7 linked regions of the Homo sapiens genome follow. The protein of the gene in region 1 purifies or fractionates together with the protein of each later gene. This does not show direct contact. Each region holds a gene or a part of one and is shown in the gene's direction. Other genes may lie near its edges.

Region 1 (3,704 bases):
GGCAGCTCAGCTAGCAAGACTGAACGAAACAAAATTTAAAAGCAGGCAAGCCCTGTACCTCCTTTTGGTCTTGCAAAGCGTGAGCTGAGGAGGCGAGTGAGCAACTCCTCTACTCCCCAGCACTCATTCTTGTAAGGTGAAGGTGGAAACACCTCCTGCTACTGCTTGTGACCACATGGAAGATGATAGTGAAGGCTGGCATTTGGTTTGCAGAAGGACATGAGGAATCAGTTTCTTTTCTTTTCCTTTTTTTTTTTTTTGAGATGGAGTCTTGCTCTGTCACCCAGGCTGGAGTGCAGTGGCAAGATCTCGGCTCACTGCAACCTCCGCCTCCCAGGTTCAAGCGATTCTCCTGCCTCAGCCTCCCAAGTAGCTGGGATTACAGGCACACGCCACCATGCCCAGCTAATTTTTGTATTTTTAGTAGAGATGGGGTTTCACCATGTTGGTCAGGCTGGTCTCAAATTCCTGACCTCAGGTGATCCATCTGCCTTGGCCTCCCAGAGTGCTAGGATTATAGGCATGAGCCACCACGCCCGGCAGGGATCAGTTTCTGAGTTTTTTAACAGGATCAGTGACTTGATTTTTAATATGTAACAAGAGTACCCACTTTATTGACAACTATAAAATGATGTTCTATCTTTATGCCTTGGGCTTTCTTTCTGAAGGAAAAGTGAAAGTAAAGATGACTTTACGTTTATTTTAGACATGGCCTTGCTCTGTCGCCCAGGCAATCGGATGATCATGGCTCACTGTGGCCTCAACCTCCTAGCCTCAAGCAATCCTCCTGCCTTAGCATCCCAAGTAGCTGGAACTACAGGCACATGCCATCATATCCAGCTAATTTTTTATTTCCTGTAGAGATGGGGGTCTCACTATGTTGCCCAGGGTGGTTTAGAACTCCTGGCCTCAAGTGATCCTCTCCACCTCAGCCTGGGATTATAGGCGTGAGCCACTGTGCCCAGCATTAGTTTATTTGTAATGCTTTTTTACATCCTAGATGAGCACAATGCCTGGACTCCCCACCCGGCCCTGTTTTTATGATATTGATTTGGACCCTGAAACAGAACAGGTGAATGGATTATTCTAAACAGGTAAGTTGTTACTGGGTAATAATTTGGCTTTTTTCCTCATGTAGCTTATTTATGAATTATAGGGCTCAAACTGACGCTATAAAAATTCACATTCTAATGCTTTCAAAACATTTCTTTTCAGACTTCCCTGAGGGGAGAGGGGATAGTAATGAGAGTTGGCAATAACCAATGAATTGAAATATTTATATTTCAACACATTTTTGGAAGAAGCGCAGCATGGCTTGTCACAGGTTGACAGTGTAGGGGAGAAAACTGCTGTCCAATAAACTACAGAGGAAACTACAGGAGAGGTTAGACTCCCTCTGCTGAAGCCCCAGGAGGCTTGGGGTTCAGAGTTGATGACACATTGCAGGTCAGGAACAGCTGACGGTCTGTATACTCTGAATAGGTAGTTAGAAGGCAAGAATTAGCAAATGTCTTAGGAAGTATAATAGAAAAGAGAAGGAAACAGGACCAATCTGGCAGTTCTTAGGGCCTTAGGTGAAAGGGCCCTGAGTACCGACTGCAATGAGTGACATTGCATTGTTTGATATTTTTGAAATTTCAACAGGACGTGTCTCTCCTTAGGCAGACCCTTGGGGCTGAAGCAGCAAGTTGCAGTGTGCACTTATATCCCTAGACACATCCTGTTGAAACTGCAAAAATATCAAACATGAAAATCCTAACATCTTTCTCCAGAGACGAAAAAAGTGGCTTGCCTATGAAAAGAATGAGAACTAGACTTAACGCCCGTCTTACTGGCAATAAGAAGCTTTTAGACAATGGAGGAGTGTCCTGTAAGGTCACAGGGAAGATGACTTTCAACATGTGCTCACACCTAGCCGAATCTATCTGGATATTTTCAGACGTGCAAGGGTTTGCCACCCCACATCTCTTCCTAAGAAGTTATTTAGCAATGTACTTAGCAAAATGAGGAATTAACCAAGAAAAAAGGAAGACGTGAGTTTTGGGAAACTGAACCCTCATTTGGACATTAGCGAAGGGGCATTCTGATAACCATGCAAATGACCTGAAGTTACAAATCCTGTGTGGAACAGGTTGGGGGAGCACCTGAGAAAAACTAGAAAAAGCTAGAAAAGACAAGGATATCAAAGGGTCATAGTATAAAACAAAAGCTCTTGCATTATTTGAGAAAGTTAAGGTCCAAGTAGAAGCAAACTGTAGTTTGATGCTAGAACACTATTCTTTGAGAGGGTATGTGTGATACTCGAAATGCAGTCATGGCTCACGGCTTGGTCTGGTCTTGAACAGTATTCACACAGTACTATGGAAATACCATGCATCATTTTCAAGTCCATTTATGGACACGCCCTAGAAGAGCTGGTGGCAGGAAAGGATGTAAATGTTAACAGCTTTGGCAATGTGAGTGGGTAATGGTGCAGTATGGAAGGAACAGGAAACATTTCAGTGCTTGCTTAGAGAAAACATTTATTTCTTGTTTTTCCTTCCAGATCACCATCCATCTTCAAGAAGCTACTTTGAAAGTCTGGCCAGTGTCTATTCAGGCCCACTGGGAGTTAGGAAGTATAAGTAAGCCAAGAGAAGTCAGCCCCTGCCCAGAAGATCTGAAACTAATAGTAGGAGTTTCCCCAGAAGTCATTTTCAGCCTTAATTCTCATCATGTATAAATTAACATAAATCATGCATGTCTGTTTACTTTAGTGACGTTCCACAGAATAAAAGGAAACAAGTTTGCCATCTTGGTGTTGCAATATGAATTACAGCCTTAACAGACTGTGCCACAGGTCTCTGCCATCCTTTGTGAGCTCATTTGTCAGGCAGACCCTTGGGCTGAAGATGCAAGTTGCAGTGTGCCCTTTATGATACTGTTGTGTTTAGAGGGAAATGTATGCATGCTTGTGTATTTCTGAGAGGACACATAATTCAGGGGACCTCCTGAGAGGGTTGGGTTGGAAGTTGATGACTTACCTTTTAATCTTATACCTTTCTATATTGTTGAATTTTGTTTTTCTACCCTGAGGAAGTATTGCTTATACAAGTTTTTGCCTGAACTTCCTTGGAATTCCCATTTCTGTCACAGCTTTAGCACTGTCTATGTTTAGAGTGCTCAAGAAGGATGGTCATGCAGCATTAGCCTTAGGTGAGCCTCTATTCTGTTGGTGCAGCAAGTATTCATTGAGTTTCTTCTAAATGCCTGGGCTCCACCCTTCCCTACAGACTTTTTATTTTTATTTTTATTTTTTTGAGACAGTGTCTCTGTCGCCCAGGCTGGAGTGCAGTGGCGCGATCTCAGCTCACTGCAACCTCCGTCTCCTGGGTTCAAGTGATTCTCCTGCCTCAGCCTCCCAAGTAGCTGGGATTATAGGCATGAGCCACCATACCTGGCCCAGACTTTCTTTTTCCTAAAACATTAGGTTGGTAAAAACCACAATTACTTTTGCACCAACCTAATATTTTTTTTCCTCCTCTTCTGGCTGGGCGTGGAGGTGGCTCATGCCTGTAATCCCAGCACTTTGGGAGGCCGAGGTGGGCGGATCACTTGAGGTCTGGGGTTCAAGACCAGCTTGGCCAACATGGTAAAACCCTGTTTCTACCAAAAATACAAAAATTAGCTGGGTGTGGTGGCAGGCACCTATAACCCCAGGTACT
Region 2 (4,117 bases), on another chromosome or scaffold:
ACCGTCCTCGCACAGGCTGGGGGCTCTGGGTGGAGTGCTGAGTTCGCTGAGTTCTTCCCAGATCTCCTCTCAGGTCCAGAACTTGCACAGCGTTGCTTGGCCACCCCATTTTGGTTACCTCTAATTTTCCCCCCAAAACCCAGCAACAGTGTCTGTTGAGGGGTTTGTTGTACTTTGGCCAACAAGCATCACCAAAAGGGATTCTAATTCTCATTACAAATCCTGCTTAAATCAGTGTTTCCCAAAGGTGGCTGTCATCAGAACCACTTGATAAGCTTTTTCAAAAAGTGGATCTCCAGGTCCCACCCCTGGAGGTTCTCACTCAGTAAATCTGAGGGAGGTCCTCGGAATGTGTGTTTTACTTCTTGAGCTTGGCAGGTGATTCGGATGATCAGTGCAGCATGGGAACAGCTGGGTTAGATGACACCATGTTACCAACAGACACATCTAGGGCTAAAAGGCTGGCTCAACCCAAGGCTGGAATGCTTAGGGCAGCTGCTCTACTCTGTAAAAAGTGGGAAAGCTGGGCATAGTGGCACGTGCCTGTAGTCCCGGCTACTTGAGAAGCTGAGGCAGGAGGATGGCTTGAGCCCTGGCGTTTGAGAGCAGTGAGACTCAGTCTCTAAAAACAGAAAAAAGAGGAGAAAACGGCAGGCCAAGCCCAGGTGTGCTCCTAGAATATGATCGGACTTTCGTGGGTCCCTCTGCCTGACACTGTGGTTGGCATGGATGATGGAAGGGGGAGAAGTATTTAGGGTGGGAGACGGGCTGGCCAGCAGCCGCCACAGCCCCTCATGTCTTGGACAGGGCTACCACTCCCTTCGGCAGCTTGTGAAGCTGTCCAAGCTGGAGGTGCCACAGGAGATCAAGGACGTGATTGAGCCAATCAAAGACAACGATGCTGCCATCCGCAACTATGGCATCGAGCTGGCCGTGAGCCTGTGCCAGGAGCTTCTGGCCAGTGGCTTGGTGCCAGGCCTCCACTTCTACACCCTCAACCGCGAGATGGCTACCACAGAGGTGCTGAAGCGCCTGGGGATGTGGACTGAGGACCCCAGGTGAGGGCAGTGGCCCAGAGATCCCCAGAGGAGGGTCCAAGAGCAGCCCCGGCTGCAGTGCTGGCTCCCCACGGTGGTACAGATGGATGTCTGTGCCATGGCTAGCTGGGCACATCGAAGGCTCCAGTCTCAGAGGGCATCAGATGGAAGAACTCAGCCTCAGGGGTGCTCCCCTGCTTCCGGCTCCCTCTAGCCAATCCCTTGTCTCAATTCTCTGTCCCCATCCTCACCCAGGCGTCCCCTACCCTGGGCTCTCAGCGCCCACCCCAAGCGCCGAGAGGAAGATGTACGTCCCATCTTCTGGGCCTCCAGACCAAAGAGTTACATCTACCGTACCCAGGAGTGGGACGAGTTCCCTAACGGCCGCTGGTGAGGGCCTGCAGACCTTCCTTGCAAATACATCTTTGTTCTTGGGAGCGGGAGGGCAGAAGAAGTTTGCATGCTTGTGGTTGACCTGGGAGGAGTCAGGGGCAGAATTTACAGGAATGGCCTCCTGGGCATGTGGTGGCACTGCCCTCTGTCAGGAGTGTGCCCTGACCTCTGGGCACCCCTCTGCCAGGGGCAATTCCTCTTCCCCTGCCTTTGGGGAGCTGAAGGACTACTACCTCTTCTACCTGAAGAGCAAGTCCCCCAAGGAGGAGCTGCTGAAGATGTGGGGGGAGGAGCTGACCAGTGAAGAAAGTGTCTTTGAAGTCTTCGTTCTTTACCTCTCGGGAGAACCAAACCGGAATGGTCACAAAGTGAGTGATGCTGGAGTGGGGACCCTGGTTCATCCCCTGCCCCTGGCCTGACCCCAGCTGCAGGCCAGGCTGCGGGGCTGTGACTTCCCCATCCTGTGCCCTCCCCTCCATGCTGTGGACATGGCAAAGGGAGAAGGGTAAGTTGGGAGACCTCCACCTGGAAGGGCTTAGGGAGGCAAAGACAGGCTGGGTCTTTGTTGGGGGCCGTGAGAGGGACTCAGGGTGCCAAACCTGATGGTCGCCCCAGCCAGCTCACCGTCTCTCCCAGGTGACTTGCCTGCCCTGGAACGATGAGCCCCTGGCGGCTGAGACCAGCCTGCTGAAGGAGGAGCTGCTGCGGGTGAACCGCCAGGGCATCCTCACCATCAACTCACAGCCCAACATCAACGGGAAGCCGTCCTCCGACCCCATCGTGGGCTGGGGCCCCAGCGGGGGCTATGTCTTCCAGAAGGTGTGGTAGGGAGGCACGGGGTGCCCCCCTCTCTTGACCGGCACCCGTGGGTTCCCCAGAGCTTAGGGCAGAGCAGCCTGCCTCTCCTGGGCTCTTAAATTTTGAATGAGCATGGATTGGAGCGGATGGGAGCTCATGCTTTAAGTCAGATAGACCTGGCTGGGCACGGAACCCGGCCAGCACTTTGGGAGGCCAAGGCGGGTGGATCACTTGAGCCCAGGAGTTCGAGACCAGCCTGGGCAACATGGTGAAACCCATTCTCTACAAAAAATACAAAAATGACCGAGGCATGGTGGTGTACACCTGTAGTCCCAGGTACTTAGGGGGCTGGGGTGAGAGGATCGCTTGAGTCCGAGAGGTTGAGCCTCCAGTAAGCCATATTTGTGCCTCTGCACTCCAGCCTGGCCCACAAAGTGAGACCCTGTCTCAAAAAAAAAAAAAAAAAAAAAAAAAAAAGATTGGCTGGGCTTGGTGGCTCATGCCTGTAATCCCAGCACTTTAGGAGGCCAAGGTGGGCAGATCACAAGGTCAGGAGTTCGAGACCAGCCTGACAAACATGATGAAACCCCATCTCTACTAAAAATACAACAATTAGCCGGGTGTGGTGGCGGGCACCTGTAGTTGCAGCTACTTGGGAGGCTGAGGCAGGAGAATCGCTTGAACCCGGGAGACGGAGGTTGCAGTGAGCTGAGATCATGCCACTGCACTCCAGCCTGGGCAACAGAGCAAGACTCCATCTCAAAAAAAAAAAAAAAAAGATAGAAATCAGACCTATGGAGGCAGGTCACTCGACCTCTCTGAGCCTGGTTTTCTCGTCTGTAAAATGGGATGTAGCTTGTGTTCTGGGCATGAAACCTAACAAAGCATGTAACGTGCTTGGCACATGGTAAGAGCAGGAAGCACTCCCTGAAAGGCAGCTGCTGTTACTATCCTGAGTTGACACCTTTCTCCCAGGGCTGCTGGAGTTAACATTATGTTCTGATCTAAGGCCCACAGGCCCTGGAGCAGAAAGACCTGAGTTTAAGGACCAGCTCTACTGTTTACTGTCAGAGTAGCCAACGTGCTCAACTTCCCTGAACCCACTTTCCTCACGTGGGGCTCACTGTGCCCAGCCTCCCGTATTATCAGCATTCTAGCAAATGAGTTTGAGTAAACCCAGCTTAATCCCTGATAGGCACTGGTTCTAGAGGAGATGTCAATGTCATTGTCAGCTTGCACTGGGGAGGATGGAATGTGTGGGGCCTCTCTCCCATGACTCGGCCTGTCAAACCAGTTGCTGCTGTTCAGAAATGGCTTCTTCGTGGAGTCTTCCCTGACTGATTGGGAGAGGGGTGGCTGATAGCCCTCAGACCTGTCCAGACTGAGAAACTCACGTCCCCACTCCCCTCACCCTTTGCTTATGGACGTGCCAACGCCACAGTTCATTATTCCGCCCACATGGCTGCCAGTAGTCCTGATACCTTAGGTGTCTGCGAAAGGGCGTCTGGCAGGGCTGGGGTTGGTGACAGGCACCTGTCTCTCCCACAGGCCTACTTAGAGTTTTTCACTTCCCGCGAGACAGCGGAAGCACTTCTGCAAGTGCTGAAGAAGTACGAGCTCCGGGTTAATTACCACCTTGTCAATGTGAAGGTAGGCCAGGCCCCAGGGTTCCCACAGAGTACCAGGCCCTTCGTTGAGCAAACACCCAGCACCTAGCCTGGGCTAGGCATTGTGCAAGACAGAGAGATACAGGCAGAACTGGGGCCCTGCTCTTAAGGAGCTCCCAGCCTAGAGTGAGGGAGGCAGATCAATGTGTGACCACCAGCCAGTGTAAGTGGGAAAATCAAGTTCAGGAGAGGATGCTGTCGGGTCCAGAGGAGGGATATCTC
Region 3 (4,077 bases), on another chromosome or scaffold:
TCATGGAGCTTGCATTTTACTGGGGGGAGACAGACAAACATATAAGCCTGTAAAGATAGTATTTGGGATGTGAGATAGAGAAGGAGTAAAGCAGGGTAGCGGGGATAGAGAGTGTTGGGGTGGGAAGGGTTGCAATTTTTTAAAGGGTGGTCAGGGAAGGCCTTGCTGAGACAGTGGCTTTTGAGACCCAGCAGAGGTGAGGGAGTGAGCTGAGGATAGGCGGGACGTGATGGAGTTGGCCCAGAGAGTTCATCAGGGCCCTCACAGCTCTTACAGTCTGTGTTTTTAGAGGTGACAGTCCTTTATGCTGGAATCTTGAAATGTTTGAGCTGGTGGGCCCTTGGGTACCGCCACCTGCCTTCTCCCACCTGTTCACCCTGGTTTCTTTTGTCCCTCTCCAGAGTGTCAGCATGCTGCGCTTCCTGGCACCCCGGCTGCTTAGCCTCCAGGGCAGGACCGCCCGCTACTCCTCGGCAGCAGCCCTCCCAAGCCCCATTCTGAACCCAGACATCCCCTACAACCAGCTGTTCATCAACAATGAATGGCAAGATGCAGTCAGCAAGAAGACCTTCCCGACGGTCAACCCTACCACCGGGGAGGTCATTGGGCACGTGGCTGAAGGTGACCGGGCTGATGTGGATCGGGCCGTGAAAGCAGCCCGGGAAGCCTTCCGCCTGGGGTCCCCATGGCGCCGGATGGATGCCTCTGAGCGGGGCCGGCTGCTGAACCGCCTGGCAGACCTAGTGGAGCGGGATCGAGTCTACTTGGCCTCACTCGAGACCTTGGACAATGGGAAGCCTTTCCAAGAGTCTTACGCCTTGGACTTGGATGAGGTCATCAAGGTGTATCGGTACTTTGCTGGCTGGGCTGACAAGTGGCATGGCAAGACCATCCCCATGGATGGCCAGCATTTCTGCTTCACCCGGCATGAGCCCGTTGGTGTCTGTGGCCAGATCATCCCGTGGAACTTCCCCTTGGTCATGCAGGGTTGGAAACTTGCCCCGGCACTCGCCACAGGCAACACTGTGGTTATGAAGGTGGCAGAGCAGACCCCCCTCTCTGCCCTGTATTTGGCCTCCCTCATCAAGGAGGCAGGCTTTCCCCCTGGGGTGGTGAACATCATCACGGGGTATGGCCCAACAGCAGGTGCGGCCATCGCCCAGCACGTGGATGTTGACAAAGTTGCCTTCACCGGTTCCACCGAGGTGGGCCACCTGATCCAGAAAGCAGCTGGCGATTCCAACCTCAAGAGAGTCACCCTGGAGCTGGGTGGTAAGAGCCCCAGCATCGTGCTGGCCGATGCTGACATGGAGCATGCCGTGGAGCAGTGCCACGAAGCCCTGTTCTTCAACATGGGCCAGTGCTGCTGTGCTGGCTCCCGGACCTTCGTGGAAGAATCCATCTACAATGAGTTTCTCGAGAGAACCGTGGAGAAAGCAAAGCAGAGGAAAGTGGGGAACCCCTTTGAGCTGGACACCCAGCAGGGGCCTCAGGTGGACAAGGAGCAGTTTGAACGAGTCCTAGGCTACATCCAGCTTGGCCAGAAGGAGGGCGCAAAACTCCTCTGTGGCGGAGAGCGTTTCGGGGAGCGTGGTTTCTTCATCAAGCCTACTGTCTTTGGTGGCGTGCAGGATGACATGAGAATTGCCAAAGAGGAGATCTTTGGGCCTGTGCAGCCCCTGTTCAAGTTCAAGAAGATTGAGGAGGTGGTTGAGAGGGCCAACAACACCAGGTATGGCCTGGCTGCGGCTGTGTTCACCCGGGATCTGGACAAGGCCATGTACTTCACCCAGGCACTCCAGGCCGGGACCGTGTGGGTAAACACCTACAACATCGTCACCTGCCACACGCCATTTGGAGGGTTTAAGGAATCTGGAAACGGGAGGGAGCTGGGTGAGGATGGGCTTAAGGCCTACACAGAGGTAAAGACGGTCACCATCAAGGTTCCTCAGAAGAACTCGTAAGAGCAGCTGTCAGGGAGGCCCAGTCACAGTCCAGCAATTCCACAACCACCTTGACGAATGCTTGCCAAGCTGTTTTAAAGCCAAGAACACCCTTTCTTTGTTCCAAATTAACTCTTAGAAGAAACCCCACAAATAAAGCAATTCAATCAAGGCTGTTCTATTTAAATCAGAGATGGGGACCAGGCTCAGAGTTCTACCTATCTAACCCCCAACCACAGCCCCCTTGGTGGCCCATGAGTTGCTTCCATGAAATCTTAGGAGTCTCTGGAGGACAGATTAAAAACCAGTGATCTGTAATTTGTAGCTCTTCCTGCTGATCCAAGGACTTTCCCATGGGTGCGCTTGATGGTTTAGTGGATCGACTCAACTCAGAACACAAGCTTGGAAAGTGTTAGGGGTTTTGAACTAGGTGGATACTAAATCTCGGCCCCACTCTTCATTGGCTTAACCTAAAAACCAGAGGTGCTTTTCCTTGTCTGTGTGCCAGTTGCTGGCTGTTTTAGTTGCTTGCCCTTCATTTTGCTACTGATTTTCCTTAATTTGTGGGAAGGAGTAGGCAAAGAATATGCTTACATGATTACACCTGTAAAGTAAGCCCAAACATCCCAAATGTCCGTCAACTGATGAGTGGATTAATAAAATGTTTCCATGGAATATTCCTTGGATTACTCAGCCATAAAAAGGAATGAAGTACTGACACATGCTGTGACATCAGTGAACCCTGAAAACATCCTTCTCAGTGAAACAAGCCAGAGAGATGTACAAGGCTACAGACTGTATGATTCCATTTATATGAAATATACATACTAGGCAAATCCATGGAGATGGAACATAGATTAGTGGTTGCCAGGGGATAGAGGAGTAATTGTTAGTGGGCATGGGATTTGTTTTTGGGAGGTTTTGAAAATGTTCTGGAGTTGAACAATAGTAATGGTTGCATGATTTGGTAAAAATACTAAAAACTATGGAATTGTTTAATTATGGTATATGAATTAATTTCTTTCTTTTTTTCTTTTTTTTTTTTTTTTTTGACACGGAGTCTCACTCTGTCGCCCAGGCTGGAGTGCAGTGGTGTGATCTCGTCTCACTGCAACCTCCGCCTCCCAGATTCAAGCGATTCTCCTGTCTCAGCCTCCTGAGTAGCTGGGATTATAGGTACATGCCATCACACCTGGCTAATTTTTGTATTTTTAGTAGAGATGAGGTTTCACCATTTTGGCCAGGCTGATCTTGAACTCCTGACCTCAGGTGATCCACCCGCCTCAGCCTCCCAAAGTGCTGGGATTACAGGTGGGAGCCACAACACCCGGCCATGAATTAACTCCGTTAAAAAATAAACGTATACATTCTGTGAGCAAATCCATTTTGTCTCCATATTGTCCTGCTGCTGAACATTTTATAGAGTGTGGGGGATGGAAGGGACCCAGGTGGTCTAGTCAACCCCCAGTCAGGTGCAAAAGTCCCCTCCCCAATGTTTCTGTTTTTGTTTTCTCTTGGATGGGTGACAAAGTGCAACTGTAAGACCCGTAGAGAAAAACTCTGGTTCCTGCTCAGAATGGGCCCATCTTGTTGGACTCGTTTCCACAGCCCCCCACCCCTTCCAAACCATACCCACCCTTCAAGCCAAGCCTAGCATGGGGGCCACCTTGACATGCTGGGGATTTCCAGAGTTTCAAACCTCAGAGTTCATAATGTTTATTGTTAGTCTTGCTACATTCATTCCCCAACTGATGGGAGTGAAGGCAAATCCAAGCCAGCCAGGCCACAATACAGAAGCAGAATGCTGAGCCTCCCTCTCTCGGTCCATCTTTCTAGACCATGCTGCTTACAAGCCACCTTACGTTCAAGTCCCCCCATTCCTGTAAATGCACACCCCACTCATCTCTGCTTCCCAGGCTCAAGCAATCCTCCCACCTGAGCCTCCCAAGTAGCTGGGACTACAGGCACTCACCACCATGCCTGGCTAATTTTTTTTTTTTTTTTGGTATTTTTTGTAGAGATGAGGTTTCACCATGTTTCCCAGGCTTGTCTCAAACTCCTGGTCTCAAGCAACCCTCCTGCCACGGCCTCCCAAAGTGCTGGAATTACAGGCATGAGCCACCATGCCTGGCCC
Region 4 (4,117 bases), on another chromosome or scaffold:
ATGGCACCTCTGAGGAAGGGCATTTCCTACAAATATTTTATGTCTGTCAGCCTCTGTAGGTGTAGAAGTGGGCTCATAGGAGAGGCCTTCTTTCTTTACACTTGTCCTGTGGTTTCCTAAGGTCTTTATAGTGAGAATGTTCTGGGAGCATTTCTACCTCAGAAAACTAGGAACTAAAAGTTCCTCCCCAAGCCCTTTGATGTAATAGTAGTTTCTCAGTCTTTGGACCTTAACCCACCTTCATGCAGTTGTTCAGCACCTTCTTTCATCTAAAACCTGACGGAATCTGGTTGAACCTTCCTGTCCTGTCTTCTGGTTTCTGAGTGGATTTGACCCAGGGCAACTGAGAAGAGGCACTGCTTTATCTTTTTGCCTTCTCACTAGAGAATGAGACCCTACTGCAGTGTCCTCTCTCTTCAGTCCCTGCATCTTCCATCCACAAAACATTGTCAAGTGTGTCAGTGACTTACATCCCTAATTAACTTAATGATCTCAACGTCAGAGAAAAACACCTGTAAAACTTTTCTCTCTCCCTGATTGTAACAAAAACACAATCCCATGATAGAAAACTTGGAAAATGCAGAGGAAGTAAAAAGAAGAAAAAAAAAATCACGTATAAATTCTGTTACTTAGAGATAATCAGTGTCAATATTCTATGCATATATCATTTTATAGCCTGATTTTTTCACTGTATCAGTACACTATAAGCATATACAAGCATAATTTTAAGTGAGTATTAAATACTCCATCATGTGGTTATACCATAATTTATTTAACTGTTTCCCTAAGGATGACCTTTGGGTTATTTGCAGTAATCCTGTAATTTATTATGATGCTACCATCAAAATCTTGGTTCATGAATCCATGTCTTAGTGTTTGATAATTTTCTTCCTATTTCTGGTTGGCTTTTAGGGCTTTTGACTCATCTTGCCCTTTGTCTGCCAGAAAGTTTGCACCTTTGTATTTGAATTTGTCTGTCTTGCCACACCTGAACACCAGGTACTGTCATTTTTAAAGAAGTGCTAGTATGATAGGTAAAAAATGGTGCCTCATCACTTTAAGAAGCCATTATTTTAAAATAGAGGTTATACTTTTAATGCCCAGGCGTTTTTTTGCTCTGATCCTCATGAGAACAAGTGACGGAAGCTGGAAGTCCTGGGACCAGAACTGTGCTCTCTCCTGGTCTGTCTAGTTCTCAGACGTTCAGCAACATCACTGTTACTGGCTGTCCGCAGGTCCCCCACCCAGTCGTGGTGCCAGAGCAGACCCATGGGTGGGCTGCAGGCTCTGATTTCATTGGTGAGCTGCAGCCTTGCTGACTCACTGCTTTTCTTTCCACCTCTGACAGGAAGCTCCGTCTCCATGGGGCTCACTGACCCTTACAGAGGAGGCTTGCCTGGCTTCCCTTGTGGGAGGGTCTCAGTTTTTCTACCCTAGGTCATCTGCCTCAGAAGGGAGAGAGTGCTCGTCTCCTTCCTTTTTATTTGGGAGCGCCAGAGGTTTGTCGGCTTCAAGGCCAGGCCTGGCAGGTCACCACTAGGCGGATCATTTCAACTCCTTGTGGGGGCAGTTCTCAGGATTTCAACTAATAGCTTTTATTCCCTTCTCCGGGCAGTGATGTGGAAGCCTGAGAAACAGCTCTGGTGCCATCACGTGGTGGACATGAGCAATTGCAGCTCAGAGGTGGAACCAGACGGGAGTCAGGCTTCCAGCCTTTCTGTGCGATTCCACTGAATCCTTGCGCAGCAGCTGGACTCCAAGCTGAAGCTCTTCCCTCCCGCTACAAGCGACCCCTTAACATCTTAAGTCAGACAGGTGACAGGGATTTTGATTTCTTTTCTAGGGCTATTTAATCTCCGAGGATCAGATGTGGAGCACAATCCAGTATTTTTCTCCTACGCAATCATAGGACTAGAGACGATCATGTGAGTGTTTGCCCTGCATCTGGAACTCCCTTCCAGAGCTCCTCAGAGCCCTAGTGTGCCCTTTCTGGTCCTGGCCCACCCATCACTGCCTGATATTTCACTGATGTGCTTCTTTTTTCTTGCCCTTTTAACATTTTCCCTTCTTGTTTTCCTTAGCAGTAGGTGTTTATTTATATCCTGCCTCTCTTTGAGCCCCCAAAATGGTTTGAAACGCATGAAAGTGTCTATAGTTCGGGCCACCCATTTGATGTCAAGTTTTCTAGCAGCCAGTGTTAAGGGGTATATATGCTCAATTATACAATTCTGGGTCCACAATGCAAATAAACCCAGTCATTTTGAAGGTCAAAAATAATATGGGAAAACCCCTCCAACTACGCTTTGTTGAATTGTCAGTTTATTTTTTCAAAGCATTTCGTGTGGCCTTCTTTTCATTACTGTTCTATTTCAATAGCTTTTTGCATTAAGACAACACATTTATTAAGTGCTGGTGATGTGCTAAGGGTCTCTGTTAGGTGCTAGGGTGACTGAAACAGGACGGGGTCCTTGGCTGGAGTTGGGGAGATGAGCATGTCCTCTTTCTAAAGTATTTGGGCACATAAGTGGGCACCAGTCTGCTTGTGGGACAGATACAGGTGTTACGAGAGGGGCCTGACCTAGACTTGGAGATCAGAGCAGACTCTTGGGGAAAGTAATATTTTGAAGCAGAGAGTAAGGATAAATGTGGGTGAGTTAGGTGAATGGCAGGGTGAGGAGGGGCGGGGAACCATGATCCAAGCAGAGGGAACAGCATTTTCAGAGACTCTGGACAGTAGAGAGCACAGTGCATGTGGAGGACCTGAAGTGGTTCAGTGAGGTCAGAACATAGTGAGGCCAGAATGTGAGCAGGGGCCACAGAAAAGAGAGGCCTTGTGGGCCACATTCAGGAGCTTGGGTTCTTTTTCTGAACAAGAATAGTGGGAAGCTATTGAACGAATTTTTCAGAGGGAACCACATGTTAGATGTACAAGTTGTAAAGAATATTATGACTGAAACATCGGTAGATGGGGAAAGACTTAGAGGCTGTGGCACTAACCCAAGTGAGAGATGGTGGGACCTGAACCTGAGTGGTGACTGGGCGAGGCTGTAGATGAGCTGGACAGATTAGATGGAGATTTAGGCTGTGGGTCCCAAGGTCTTAATGAAGGACGGGAAGAGGGTCATCAGTGAAGGAGGACACTGCCCAGATTTCTGGCTTGGCAGATTGGGTGGATGGGGGCAGGGAATGCACCTTGGAGGGCAGGATTTGGGAAAGGAGTGGGGAGGAGAGAAAAGGGGCTTGGTTTTGGTTGCCAGGAAACAGAGCCTGATGTGTATGTGTGTCTGTGTTGCCACCTCTCACTCATGTTCCCTCCTTTTTCTGCCACCCACCTCTCCTCCATCTGCAGGCTCTTCATTGATGGTGACCGCATAGACGCCCCCAGTGTGAAGGAGCACCTGCTTCTTGACTTGGGTCTGGAAGCCGAATACAGGATCCAGGTGCATCCCTACAAGTCCATCCTGAGCGAGCTCAAGGCCCTGTGTGCTGACCTCTCCCCAAGGGAGAAGGTGTGGGTCAGTGACAAGGCCAGCTATGCTGTGAGCGAGACCATCCCCAAGGTTGGTGACCCCACTTTGGCCCATCTAAACTCTGCCACCCCCTTCCCAGTTCTGGTATTGTCTTTGGAGCACAGGCAGATTTCTGAGGCTGCCTGTTGGATCAGAACTGTGGTCTCCATGGATGAGGCCTTAAAGCTGGAGCCATAGCAAGAGCCTGAGGGCCCTTATTGCTTGTTGAGTCTTGTGTTTTCCAGAGTGTGGCATGAGAGATTATTTTAGGTGGTACACATTATTATTTAGGTTTGCTTAAATATATCTGTTTTAACAGCATTTAGCATATAATAGAAAAAACATAACTAGCATGAGTTCATGATATAATTATTTAAAATAAAGTTGAATTTAATAAAGCTGATTTAAAGATGGTCTAAAGTAAAGTACTAAGTGAATAAGGGTACAGCAGTTAAGAAGCTAGGGTAAAAGCTGTGCAGGTGGTATAAGAATGCTTGAAGCTTGGGAAATGCTTCTCTACCCCCTCCTTCTGCCGCACCACATTTTATAGCTAAGGACACTTGAGGCTCAGAGAGGATTGGGGAGTTGGGGATTTGGGGATTTGTCAA
Region 5 (4,117 bases), on another chromosome or scaffold:
CTCCCAGGCTGTTCTCTCCCTGGCTTCAGACACCACCGCCCCTGTGATGCTGCCCAGGTTCTTGTCCCTGCTCTTCCCCCTCTGTGAGCTTGCCTCACTCCCAGCCCTGCCTTTTCTGTCTTGCCCTTCTTATAGCAGGAAAAGTCATCTCCACCCACCCATACAGGATTTCTTCCTCTACCTTGCTTTCTATGGGGGGTCTCTCGACGAATCTTGTCTGTCATAGCCCAGATGTTTCCTAAGCCCCACCCCGACCCCCATAGCTTCCCCCTGTCAGAGGCTCCGCGTCTCTCAGCTCAGCCTCTGAATTGCCCCAGACATGCGTCGTCTGTCAGCCCCTGCTGCTCGCCAGTCCAGAGAGATCCTTTCCACTGTGCATCGATCATGTCCCTCCTGTCCTGTCCATGGCTGAAGGGAGGCCTCAACCACTGGGCCCTGTCTGTGGCTGCAGCCCCACCTCAGGCCGTGGGCTCACACTTCCCTCTCTCAGGACAGCACCAAGCCTGTTCTTCCTGAGAACTTCACAATTGCTATCCCTTCTTCCTGGAGCTTTCTCTGCGGATCTGTGCGTGGCCGACTTCTCCCCATCCAGGTCCCAGCTTCTGTGTCCCCTCCTCAGAGAGGCCTTTTCTAATATCCAGCCCCCAAACCCCTGCACCCGCCCCAGATCATTCGCAAAATGTCACCTGTTTCTTATCTTCCAGGCACTTGTGATCTGAAATGTTCTGATTTGTGTCTTGTTTTTCTTTTCTTTGCTCCTTTCACTGCCATTCATCTTCCATGAGCAGAACCCTTCACTGTTGTGTTCTCGACTCCTAAGGCTTAGAACTGTGCCTGGCATAAGGTCTGCCCCTAGTGGGGTTTTCTGTTTTTCTCCCCTGGCTGTGGGTCTTTCCTCCTCCTCCTCTTCTCTTTCTTCTACTTATTTCCTTGTTTCTTCTCTTTTCTTTTTCTTCTGTCTTTATTTCCCCTTTTCTAGGTTGTTGGCTGTAATATGGCACTAAGGTTTTTGCAATATTTGTTTCATTTCTTGAGTATGTTTTTATGTTCCTTACTTAAAACAAAATGGCTGAGTCAAGTGTTTTAAACGTTTTCTAAGAAATGAATCAGATCGGCCGGGTGTGGTGGCTCACACCTGTAATGCTAGCACTTTGTGAGGCCGAGGCGGGTAGACCACTTGAGGTCAGGAGTTCAAGACCAGCCTGGCCAACATGGTGAAACCCCATCTTTATTTAAAATACAGCCAGGCGTGGTGGTTCACACCTGTAATCCCAGCACTTTGGGAGGCCAAGGCAGGTGGATCGCCTGAGGTCAGGAGGTCGAGGCCAGCCTGGCCAAGATGGTGAAACCCTGTCTCTACTAAAAATACAAAAATTAGCTGGGCGTGGTGGCGGGTGCCTGTAATTCCAGCTACTCGGGAGGCTGAGGCAGGAGAATCACTCGAACCCAGGAGGCGGAGGTTGCAGTGAGCCGAGATCGCACCATTGCGCTCCAGCCTGGGTGACAGAGCAAGACTCTGTCTCAAAAAAAAAAAGAAAAAAGAAAAGAAACAAAACAAAAACAAAATTAGCCAGGCATGGTGGTGCATGCCTATAATCCCAGCTACTTGGGAGGCTGAGGCAGGAGAATTGCCTGAACCTGGGAGGCAGAGGTTACAGTGAGCAGAGATCATGCCATTGCACTCCAGCCTGGGCAACAAGAGCGAGACTCCGTCTCAAAAGAAAGAAATGAATCAGATGGTTAGATGAGGCCCAGATGCAGGGGTGAAAAGAGTGTGTCTGGTTTGGCTTGGGCTCTGTGCTGGGCAGCTGTCTTTTTAGTCTCCACTGTACCTTGGTTTCCTTCATTTTACAAATGAAGGGCTGGCCAACCTCTGAAGCCTCTTTGCATTCAGGGATATAAGTTGTCGTCAGTTGATTTAAATATATATATAATATTATATAATATTATAATATTATATATAATATATATTATAATATATAATATAATATATAATATTATATAATATATATAATATTATATATTATATTATATATAATATATATTTTATATATAATATAATATATAATATATATAATATATTATATATATTTATATTATATTATATATAATATTTTATATTTTATATATAATATATTATATATAATATATATATATTTTTTAAAGATGGAGTCTTGCTGTGTCACCCAGACTGGTACAGTGGTGCCATCTCAGCTCACTGCAACCTCCACCTCCCAGGCTCAAGTGATTCTCATGCCTCACCCTCCCAAGTAGCTGGGATTACAGGCATGTGCCACCATGCCTGGCTAAGTTTTATATTTTCTGTAGAGACAGGGTTTCACCATGTTGCCCAGGTGGGTTTCAAACTCTTGAGCTCACACAAATGTGCCTTGGCCTCCCAAAGTGCTGGGTTTACAGGTGTGAGCCACCGTGCCCAACCTGAAGTATTATACTTTTTTTTTTTCCTGGGACAGAGTCTTGATGTCACCCAGGCTGAGGGCAGTGGCGCAATCTCAGCTCACTGCAACCTCTGTCTTCTAGGTTCAAGCGATTCTCGTGCCTCAGCCTCCTGAGTAGCTAGAATTACAGGCGTGTGCCACCATGCCCGGCTAATTTTTATATTTTTAGTAAGAGGCGGGGTTTCACCATGTTGGCCAGGCTGGTCTCGAACTCCTGATGTAAGGTGCTCCTCCCACTTCAGCCTCCCAAAGTGCTGGGATTACAGGCATGAGCCACCGCGCCCAACCTGATACTTTTATTTTTTTTGAGACGGAGTCTTGCCCTGTCGCCCAGGCTGGAGTACAGTGGCACGATCTCGGCTCGCTGCAAGCTCTGCCTCCTGGGTTCATGCCATTCTCCTGCCTCAGCCTCCCAAGTAGCTGGGACTACAGATGCCCGCCACCACGCCCGGCTAATTTTTTTTTTTTTGTATTTTTAGTAGAGACGGGGTTTCACCGTGTTAGCCAGGGTGGGCCAACCTGATACTTTTAAAAGTTATAGTGCATATTATGCTGGGTACGGCAGCTCACACCTGTAGTCTTAACTACTCAGGAGGCTGAGGTGGGAGGATCATTTGCGACCAGCCTAGGCAACATAGGGAGACCCTGTCTCTACAACAATAAAGTCACAGTTAGGATATCAGGCTGAGCTGGGGGTTCCATTTGGGGTTGGATTTGCTCCCTTCTCTAGAGCCAGGAAATGTTGGGCTTGGCCAGGCATCAGGAGGTAGATGGTGCTAGCCTTTCTGTGGGGCCACTGTGGGGTTGGGAAGGGCCCTCACTCATTCTGAGGAGCCTCAGTGCTGAGGCTGCGCTAACCTGGGCTCTAACTTCCCTCCCTAGATGCTGAAGTTCCGAACAGTCCATGGGGGCCTGAGGCTCCTGGGAATCCGCCGAACCTCCACCGCCCCCGCTGCCTCCCCAAATGTCCGGCGCCTGGAGTATAAGCCCATCAAGAAAGTCATGGTGGCCAACAGAGGTGAGCACCAGTGGGGCCGGTGAGAGGAGCCTCATGGCCGCCCCAGCCTTGGCATTCTTCTCCCACTCACTGCCCCAGGCCCTGGCTTCCCACTCCCCTTTCTGCTTCTCCTAGGACCTAGGAATCTAACTTCTTGTTTCTTTGCCCTCTAGGTGAGATTGCCATCCGTGTGTTCCGGGCCTGCACGGAGCTGGGCATCCGCACCGTAGCCATCTACTCTGAGCAGGACACGGGCCAGATGCACCGGCAGAAAGCAGATGAAGCCTATCTCATCGGCCGCGGCCTGGCCCCCGTGCAGGCCTACCTGCACATCCCAGACATCATCAAGGTGGCCAAGGTGAGCCCAGTGGCCTGGCTGGGCCTGGACAGCAGGGACCAGGGAGTCTTAGTTGCCGCGGGGGTCTCTTGAGGCTGGCGTGCTCAGCGCCTCTGTGCGTGGGTGGGTAAACGGATGCAGCTCAGCAGGTTAGGCAGGGGAAGAGGCTGGCCGAGGCCTTGGAAGGGACTGCAAGGTACCGTCCTCTCCCTGACCCCCACCTGCAGGAGAACAACGTAGATGCAGTGCACCCTGGCTACGGGTTCCTCTCTGAGCGAGCGGACTTCGCCCAGGCCTGCCAGGATGCAGGGGTCCGGTTTATTG
Region 6 (4,633 bases), on another chromosome or scaffold:
ATGCTCTCCTCCATTTGCACAAAGCCTGGCCATGTTCATTGCTCAGTCCACTCTCAACGCTTCTGCAAGGCTCAGCTGCAACCCTTTCCCAATTGCATTCTGTTCCTTTAATGTCTGTCCTACACAGTTCAGTAAGAAATCATGTGGCCATTTGTATTATTTTCTTATAAGTACCTTGAAGTCTGAACCTAAGTTTACCTCCAGGTGTAGACGCACCCTTTCTCTACCCCATCCTCCCCCTTTACTCTGCCCCACTAAGCAACCAATGGAGTAGAAGTAGTAAGTGCTCAATAAATATGTGAATGAAAAACCTTAAGTTCAAGGCATTTTGTATAGAATGTTTTAATTTTTATGGGTATATTTGGAGTCCTTTATTTAAGACCACAGTGCTGATGTCCACAATCTGTCACTACATAGTGCCTGGTGTGGTGGCTCATGTCTGTAATCCCAGCACTTTGGGAGGCTGTGGCGGGCAGATCGCTTGAGTCCAGGAGTTCAAGACCAGCATAGCCAACATGGTGAAACCCCTACAAAAATAAAAAATTAGCCGGGCTTGGTGGCACAAACCTGTAGTCTCAGCTACTGGAAAGGCTGAGGTGGGAGGTCAAGGATTCAGCGAGCTGTGATCGTGCCACTGCATTGCAGCCTGGGCGACAGAGTGAGGCCCTGTCTCAAAAAATGAAATAAAGTAAAAAATAAAAATAACTACATAGCGAAAATAATCAGAAGAATGTTTAAGGTCTCCAGTGAAAGGACAACAGGCTTGTTGTGCTGTTCGCAAGCACGTGTTAGATGCGATTCACTCATGTTGTTGGTGTGTCACTGGGGGTTGTGACTGCAAGTTGTCCAGGTTCTTGGCATTGTGAACAAAGAATTGGACAAAACGCCCAGCAAAGCAAAGAAAGAACAAGGCAACGAAAGAACGAAAGCAGGGATTTACCGAAAACGAAAGTGCACTCCACAATGTGGGAGCGGACCGAGCAGAGCTCAAGGGCCCGGATATAGAATCTTCTTGGGTCCAAATACCCACTAGAAGTTTCCTATTGGCCATTTTATGCTCACCTCAAACCCGATTGGTTGCAAGAAGCAAGCAGTCAGAGGCTAGGGTGAAATTACAAAGTTATACTTCTATGCAAACGAAGACTGGACCCCCAATCAGTCTGATTGGTTGTGGACAGCAACCATTCAGAGGCTGGAGTTAAGGTTCAAACTTGGCAAAGCAAGCCTCCACCAGCAGTAAGTCTGATTTGTCGGGGACAGCCAATTTCCTATCTGCCCTGCGGAAAAGGTGGGGGGGTTTGCAAAGGGAGTAGCCTTTGGTCCTTTTGTTACTTAGGCATGGAAAGTTAGGGTTTTCCTTTCAGTTTAGCTCTAGGAAGTCAGCGTGAGACAGCCTTAGGTTCCCTGCTTCCAGACTTATTCTCCTGCCTTAGGTACAGTCACTATCGTGATATTATCTATCGCTGTGTCAACACAACACCAATCCAAGCCCAACCGCAGCTCTCTCACTGCCGCACCGCTTCGTGAGGGTCGATCCGCCGGGGAGACCTGCTCTCCTGCGCTCGGGACTAGACGCGACCTCGCGGGGCTGAGGCTCTGTCCCTTATTGGCTGGGTCAGGGGGCGTGGCGCGGCTTGACCAATCGCGGGCGGCGCGCTTAGGCACGTGTGTGGACAGGCCTGAGAATCAGAGAAACCTTCTCTGGGGCTGCAAGGACCTGAGCTCAGCTTCCGCCCCAGCCAGGGAAGCGGCAGGGGAAAGCACCGGCTCCAGGCCAGCGTGGGCCGCTCTCTCGCTCGGTGCCCGCCGCCATGTGGGCCGTCCTGAGGTTAGCCCTGCGGCCGTGTGCCCGCGCCTCTCCCGCCGGGCCGCGCGCCTATCACGGGGACTCGGTGGCCTCGCTGGGCACCCAGCCGGACTTGGGCTCTGCCCTCTACCAGGTAGGCTGAGCGCCCCGGTGGCCTGGCCGCCGGTGCCAGGCTAGGAAGCAAGTGGAGGAGGGGCACGCTTCAACAACTGCTGCTCTCTTGTCCGGAGCCCCAGTTGATTCTGTGACGCACGTGAAGTTTGAAGAAGAAAAGCCTAACAGATACAAGAAAGTTTAGTTCACTTTTAGAGCTGGCACTGTACTTTGTGTCTTTGAAATCAGTGGTTCTTAAAGCCTGGTTTAGAATTGCCACCTGGGGAGCTAGCTGAATAGCTGCCTGAGCCCTACTCTGGACCTTGTGGGTCTCAGGTGGAGTCGCTGTGTTTATATTGTTAGTGAACTCATTAGGGGACTTTTGGCAGCCAGCTTTGGGAACCACTGGCCTAGAGCAGCCCAACGAGGGGCGCTGTGCTTAGGAAATTTGAGTTTAAAAGTTGATTATGATGGCCGAGCCCAGTGGCTCACGCCTGTAATCCCAGCGCTTTGGGAGGCCCTGGCGGGTGGATTACCTGAGATCAGGAGTTCGAGAACAGCCTGGCCAACGTGGTGAAACCCCATCTCTACTAAGAATACAAAAATTAGCCGGGCATGGTGGCGCGCGCCTGTAATCCCAGCTACCTGGGAGGCTGAGGCAGGGGAATCGCTTGAACTTGGGAGGCGGAGGTTGCAGTGAGCTGAGATCGTGCCATTGCACTCCAGCCTTGGCAACAAGAGCGAACTCTGTCTCAAAAAAAAAAAAAAAAAAAAGTTGGTTATGTTAATAGAAAATATCCCACAGTATCTTTGAGTGGCTTTTCTTGGAATTAGGAGGCATCATAAGGCCAAAAAACTCAAAACTTGCGAAATATCAGAGCTGGAAAATTTCACTGTGTTCCCACGATTTCTAAGCCTATACAGATAACATCTAAATAGTGCAAACAACACACAATTGTTTGTCAGTCCAGAATGTTTAATTCAGAATTATTAAGTGGTTATTGTGGTCTAGGCACTATTTTAGATATTTGGCATGGATGCGTAGGAATGGAACTAATAATTTTGTAGGGAAGATGGACAAGAAAGCAGGTAACTGTGGTACAGTGTAAGAAGGGTTGTCTAAAGCTTGAGAAGGTGGTTACAGAAAGCTACCGATAGGAAGTAATGGGTGAGATGAATCTTGGGTAAGAGCTGGCCAAGTTCAGGGTGCAGGATGGAAGGTAAGACTGTATAAACCAAGAGAGTTACAAGAACATAGGTACTGAGTTATGAAAGTGTATATCTGGTGTGAGGACTTGAATTCCATGTCTAGGACATGGAATTCATTGAATAGTGTCTGGTGATGGGATTGATTGATTATGGGGCCAGATAGAGGAGGATCTTCCATGCAAAAGCCACATTTAGATTCCATTTGGCAGGTTGTCCATTAAAATATTTAAGTAGATAAGTGGCATGATCCTATGGATATGGTAGAATCATCAGTGTGGTGGCAATGTGGAGGATGGATTGATATAGGGAAAAGACTAGACCTAGGTGACAGTGGAGAGTTGAGTCTTGAGATGAAGGAGTCAAAGTTAGAGTTGTATGTAGGAGGGGGGCATAAATACCTGAGGAGCAAAGATTATAGAGTTAATAACTGAGTGGAAGGGGAAAATGGATGACTTTGGAGTTTCCAACTGGGCAGAATATTTAGTTAGGTGGAACTGCCATTAATACAAAGAAGGCTTTGGTGATGGGTTTTGTATGAATCACCTTTTGCTAGGTTGCGCTTTGTGTAACAAATAATCAAAAAATCTCAGTAACTCACAACAGTAAATATTAGTCTCTCACTTGATTTTGTTTTGTTTCTTAATCTCTCACTCGTGTTGGTGGCCTTTGGTTAGCTGCTGCTGTGACTGTTCCACTGCAGGGTAGGTTCAGGTCTGCTCCATGTGTCTTCCCATTCCTGGACTGAGGCTGAAGAGCAGCCCTGAATTAAACATGCCCTTCTCATGGCCGAAGGCACAGGAGCAAGAGGCTGAACACAAATTGGATTTAAAATCCTTGCTGGCATGTGATGAAATTAATGTGTGCTCACATTAGACAAAGCAAGTCCATGAGGGTGGGGGAGAATGGGATGAATGATCCAGTTTAGCTGTGTTTCCTGATTACAAATAAAAGCAACTATAATAAGTAATAATAATGGCAGGAATTTTATAGTGTACCCACCATTTTTCTAAAGGCTTTATGTGGTTTTACTCATGTATTTATCATAATGATCCTGTGCAGTAGGTACAATTGTTATTTCTGTTTTATAGATGGGAAAACTGTGGTATATAGGGTCCAAGAAATTTGTCTGAGATAACACAGAGCCTGAATTTGAAGCCAGGTGGTCTGGCTCATAACTCTTGAGTCCAGGGTCTTAACTGTTGCTCTATAATGCTTCTCACTCACCCAGCTCTACCTAGGTGGGTTCTATGGTTGAAAAGATGGGGTGGGAAACTTGTCAGTGGCTCAGCTCCAATTCATTATGACTGTCAGGCACTAACCTCTGTGGTTGCTCAGCTTCACAAGAAAATTACTAGGTTGTAGAATGTTGTTTCGCAGGTGATTAAAACACACACACACACACACACAAACACAAACACCTGGCGTCCTGAGAGATCAAGATTTGCCAAATGCAGTATCAGTAAGTAGGGAAACTGAAAGTTGAACTTGGTTTTGCCACTAAACTACACTGCCTCTTGGTTAGTG
Region 7 (4,117 bases), on another chromosome or scaffold:
ATTGGATTATTTGATCTCTAAAAGTCCATGAGTAAGAAATGATTTAAGAAATTATGGCATAATGTTAAGCTAAATTTAATAACCCCTGCTGTAGGGAACAAAACATTTTCTACTAGTTCAGGTTCAAGAAAGCGATTGTTAAGCCACCTCATGTTTTGGGAATAGTCATGAACCTAAAAAAGCTACAGAGGGCCAGGCATGGTGGCTGATGCCTGTAATCCCAGCACTTTGGGAGGCCAAGGCAGGTGGATCACGAGGTTAGGAGATCAAGACCATCCTGCCTAACACGGTGAAACCCTGTCTCTACTAAAAATACAAAAAATTAGCTGGGCATGATGGTAGGCACCCGTAATCTTAGGTGCTTGGAAGGCTGAGGCAGGAGAATCACTTGAACCCGGGAGGCGGAGGTTGCAGTGAGCCGAGATCATGCCACTGCACTCCAGCCTGGGCAACAGAGCGAGACTCCACCTCAAAATAAAATTTAAAAAAGCTACAGAGAAGGACAACCAAAATAAATGAGGATTTCAGGCTTCTGAATGAGGATTAATTTGACACAGACCACAATATAAGCTATAACTGAGAAATATACAATCAAACAGTAGATTTAAGAATGAAGATAACCTAAACTAACACTAGGACAATCCAAGTTAGGTTTAGAACAACCTATAGCAGCCTGAGCTATAAGTAGATCCAAAGGAAGATTGGCTGAATTAATGGATAGCTAAATAATGGATACGTTTCCATGCTGACATCATGGAATAACCACTTTATGCTGAGTTCTCAGTGCCTGAGAGATTATAATAGTTGGGTAAACCATGGTAATATTTCACATTCTCCTGACTGATTGAATGTTTAACTTTTCATCTGTTCTAATAGTGGAAGTGTAATTGAAAGTGGACCTTACTAGTATGTGGAACTGGAGATACAGAAGAACATTTAGTATATGAATGAGAGTTCTAGTGTACCCACTGCCTTGATTAAGTAAGCAGTTTAACTTGGGTTTTTCAAAGTAGCATTGGGAGAATTAGTTGTATAGTGCTTTAAAGCAGCTTGAGCTATTTAAAAAGAGTTGCTATTATACATATGGTATGGGAATTATAATGCAGAGATGTTTGATCCATGATCTGTTCTTAGATTTTCTTTCATAAAATATACCTAGCTATAATTTAAAAATTAGATAGTGTACTTACCTACTCCCATATATTGTAGTTTTAATTTTAATACTGATTTTTGTGTAATTAAAAACATTAATTGGCCATTATAATTTAAAACATGTATGCCCAGATTTTCTTTCCATTCTGATATGTTACTTAATGTTTGGGTGGATTAAATAATTAGTTTTAAAAAGTAAATTAAAAGGTGCATAGTTTGGAGTTTTTATTATTCCAGAAATCACTGGCACTAAAAATGTAAAATGACTCTTTTCTCCCTTCATTACTAAAATACACTTTGAGTTTTCTTAACTTTCTTCTGTTGCACTAAATATTGGATTTTGATGTTACTGCTTTCGTTAAAGGTTGTAAGGATTGCCCTTTTAGTTTTTTCCCACATCTGCAGTTTTAAGACATTCCTCAATTTATTTTATATTTGGTAATTGTCAGTACGTCATTCACAGAACTCAGTAGAGCAGATACAGCAGAGAAAACCCTTGAAACTAGGTATTTGCTGCTGCCTCTTTAAAGAGTTTTTCAAGCCAATGTCTGTTAGTATTAAACCTCAGAAATTAAGTATTTTTAATTTCAGGGAAGGAAACTATTATGTTTCAGTTCATTGTTTCTGTAACTCTATGAGATAGGTGGTTTTGCTCTCATTTTAGAGATGGTAAAACTGGAACTCAAACATTCTGAATATGAGAATCCAGAATAAAACCATATTTGTCATATTCAAGTTGGGCTTGACTACAAAGCATACGGGTTTCTCCCTTTATCAGACTGCAGCCCTTTTTGTATAATACCCAGAGAATGACTGTCACAATAAAGAAGAGTTTCAGTTTCTCTCTACTTAGTTGATTTTTTTTTCTTTAAATAATTAACTTTTGAATTACACTCTCTGTTTAATCTTGGCCTTAAATATTTTGCTTTCTTTTGGCATCTGAAGCCAAAACATAATGCTTGGTTAAGATTTTCATTCTTTTTTCCTGTGGTCTTTAGGAGAGAAAAAACATTTTAGAAGCATTCATAATCAGTTTTTAAAAGTTCTTCTAATAGTTTTGATCAACAAATAATATGCTGGTAAGTACTCAAAAATAATTTTTTTTAATGAATCTTGGAACTTAAAATACTTTCTGAAAGCCTATAAACTCTCAGGCCACAAGACCACACATTTTTTTTGAAACTCTTTTTTCCATATTCTTCAGGGTGAAAGTAAATGCAAGATATTCCACCACCAATTTTTGAAAAGTTTTAATGTTTAATGTTCAAACATTTTCCATATTTGAACACTTTGCATTACTTTTTCGCACACTAATAATGTTATTTGGCATATTTTAATATACATGTCCACATCTTGAAATGACCCACTGCAGACAAGTTCCGGTGAATATTCTGTAGTGTAACTGAGTACAGATACTGATTTGTTTGCTGCTGGGAAAAACCTAGAACTATTTTACTTGTAACTTGACCTGTTGTTGGTGGGTGGATACACTTGGCTTGACTGTAATCTTGCACGAAATGTCTTGTTTGTTGGTTGGGAAACTATTAAGTGGAATCTGAAATAAAGGACTAAAAAAAATTACATTTACTAAATTGAAAGGGGATGTAATCCCCCCGCTCCCGCTTAACATAAATCTTTAATAAACTCGAAACTGTGACCACTTTGTTATTATTTTTCCTTTTGTTGTCTTAATTGGTTAACACAGACATTCAAAGTCTGAAGTTCATTCTTTATGGCTCTCGGGTTGAGTAAATAAAGAAAAGTCTGTTTTTGCAGCGAAAATATTGGCCTTTGGCACCCACTCTCTTGCTAAAGTCTATTTGGTGTCAACACCTTTACGATTGAGTTCTAATATCCTGCTACCTGATATGATATTTTAGGGAACTCAAAATTCAGATTATGTACATATAATACACACATATACATTTACTTTATGGAAGTGTCAAATGCATACAGGAAAATATACATAGAAGTGGACAGCCTGCTAAATGTTCCTAAATGGAACATACTAGTTAATCAGCACTGAATCAAGACAGAGTTTTACCAGTACCTCCTTCCAATTTTAACCGTCCCTCAGTGGTAACTATTTATTTGACTTCCAACAGCATGATTTTTTTGCTCATTTATACTTTGTGAAACCATATTCTCTTTTGTGTCTGGCATCTTCCACTCAGTACGCAGAATCTTTCTTATATTTATATCATATGTATTTGTAATTGTCACAAAATTAGGAAAGACGGACACTATAGAAATATATTGGAGGTAAGGAGGGTGAAGTTGGTTTAAAATGGAAAGATTAATCATTTTTTGCAGCTAAAGGCCACTCGCACATTTATGGTGTCAAGCCACTAAATACCTTTTGTGGGTTTTCTTACAATATCTTTTGCCATAGTTCTGGTAGTTTGGCAATATCACTTCAGCCAAATGCCAAATACATTTGGAATTCTGTTAAGTTATAGTCTCTCTTGTCCTTCCTTTTATTAGAACGAGAGTGGAGACAAAGAACTAAATATCTTTCTGACCTGAAGTTTTTAATCAGAAGATTTAGGTGTTAACAGACTCTAATCTTTTCAGCGATGCTTCTTAATACCTTCTCTGAGCTTACTAGTGACCCAGTTTTCAACAAGGCTTTACCCAGTTTTTTGTTTTTAATTTTGGAAAGGGTACATTGAGGGGTTTCTACTTCCACACACTGTGTGTATCCGGGTACCATTTACCTTTTTTTATATTTGTATATCTTTTTTAAAGATCTGAGAGTCTGCCAGGAGGGATGCAGATTGTCCACATTTGTCCCAGCATCTTTCTTTCTGGAGGCCTTTTCTGTTTATAATGGTTTAGTAGCTCTAGATTGTTGGTAGAGGCTTCCATGCATAATGATGAAGACTTAAGGAATCAAATTCCATAGGTAATTGCCCACCAAGGATTTGTTGGCTTCAAAGCTTCTCTAATTTATTTATCTTCTTAC

The links.
Region 2: the proteins of MTHFD1 (region 1) and MTHFR purify together in Homo sapiens (co-immunoprecipitation; one study listed by IntAct). This does not show direct contact.
Region 3: the proteins of MTHFD1 (region 1) and ALDH1B1 fractionate together in Homo sapiens (co-fractionation; one large-scale study listed by BioGRID). This does not show direct contact.
Region 4: the proteins of MTHFD1 (region 1) and XPNPEP1 fractionate together in Homo sapiens (co-fractionation; one large-scale study listed by BioGRID). This does not show direct contact.
Region 5: the proteins of MTHFD1 (region 1) and PC fractionate together in Homo sapiens (co-fractionation; one large-scale study listed by BioGRID). This does not show direct contact.
Region 6: the proteins of MTHFD1 (region 1) and MCCC2 fractionate together in Homo sapiens (co-fractionation; one large-scale study listed by BioGRID). This does not show direct contact.
Region 7: the proteins of MTHFD1 (region 1) and CDH2 fractionate together in Homo sapiens (co-fractionation; one large-scale study listed by BioGRID). This does not show direct contact.

The regions. Positions count from the first base shown.
Region 1 is NC_000014.9:64,457,214-64,460,917, forward strand, and holds the end of MTHFD1 (C-1-tetrahydrofolate synthase, cytoplasmic), read left to right. Parts: intron 1-1,000; coding exon 1,001-1,090; 3' UTR 1,091-1,094; intron 1,095-2,545; coding exon of another isoform or gene 2,546-2,722; 3' UTR 2,723-2,812; downstream 2,813-3,704. UniProt on the Homo sapiens protein: Trifunctional enzyme that catalyzes the interconversion of three forms of one-carbon-substituted tetrahydrofolate: (6R)-5,10-methylene-5,6,7,8-tetrahydrofolate, 5,10-methenyltetrahydrofolate and (6S)-10-formyltetrahydrofolate.
Region 2 is NC_000001.11:11,792,039-11,796,155, reverse strand, and holds part of MTHFR (methylenetetrahydrofolate reductase (NADPH)), read left to right. Parts: intron 1-807; coding exon 808-1,058; intron 1,059-1,292; coding exon 1,293-1,427; intron 1,428-1,617; coding exon 1,618-1,798; intron 1,799-2,066; coding exon 2,067-2,249; intron 2,250-3,776; coding exon 3,777-3,878; intron 3,879-4,117. UniProt on the Homo sapiens protein: Catalyzes the conversion of 5,10-methylenetetrahydrofolate to 5-methyltetrahydrofolate, a cosubstrate for homocysteine remethylation to methionine. Represents a key regulatory connection between the folate and methionine cycles.
Region 3 is NC_000009.12:38,395,339-38,399,415, forward strand, and holds the end of ALDH1B1 (aldehyde dehydrogenase X, mitochondrial precursor), read left to right. Parts: intron 1-401; coding exon of another isoform or gene 402-410; coding exon 411-1,964; 3' UTR 1,965-3,323; downstream 3,324-4,077. UniProt on the Homo sapiens protein: ALDHs play a major role in the detoxification of alcohol-derived acetaldehyde. They are involved in the metabolism of corticosteroids, biogenic amines, neurotransmitters, and lipid peroxidation.
Region 4 is NC_000010.11:109,881,875-109,885,991, reverse strand, and holds part of XPNPEP1 (xaa-Pro aminopeptidase 1), read left to right. Parts: intron 1-1,843; coding exon 1,844-1,925; intron 1,926-3,349; coding exon 3,350-3,560; intron 3,561-4,117. UniProt on the Homo sapiens protein: Metalloaminopeptidase that catalyzes the removal of a penultimate prolyl residue from the N-termini of peptides, such as Arg-Pro-Pro. Contributes to the degradation of bradykinin.
Region 5 is NC_000011.10:66,871,384-66,875,500, reverse strand, and holds part of PC (pyruvate carboxylase, mitochondrial precursor), read left to right. Parts: intron 1-3,341; coding exon 3,342-3,477; intron 3,478-3,629; coding exon 3,630-3,814; intron 3,815-4,020; coding exon 4,021-4,117. UniProt on the Homo sapiens protein: Pyruvate carboxylase catalyzes a 2-step reaction, involving the ATP-dependent carboxylation of the covalently attached biotin in the first step and the transfer of the carboxyl group to pyruvate in the second.
Region 6 is NC_000005.10:71,585,615-71,590,247, forward strand, and holds the start of MCCC2 (methylcrotonoyl-CoA carboxylase beta chain, mitochondrial isoform 1 precursor), read left to right. Parts: upstream 1-1,725; 5' UTR 1,726-1,811; coding exon 1,812-1,940; intron 1,941-4,633. UniProt on the Homo sapiens protein: Carboxyltransferase subunit of the 3-methylcrotonyl-CoA carboxylase, an enzyme that catalyzes the conversion of 3-methylcrotonyl-CoA to 3-methylglutaconyl-CoA, a critical step for leucine and isovaleric acid catabolism.
Region 7 is NC_000018.10:28,166,718-28,170,834, reverse strand, and holds part of CDH2 (cadherin-2 isoform 1 preproprotein), read left to right. Parts: intron 1-4,117. UniProt on the Homo sapiens protein: Calcium-dependent cell adhesion protein; preferentially mediates homotypic cell-cell adhesion by dimerization with a CDH2 chain from another cell. Cadherins may thus contribute to the sorting of heterogeneous cell types.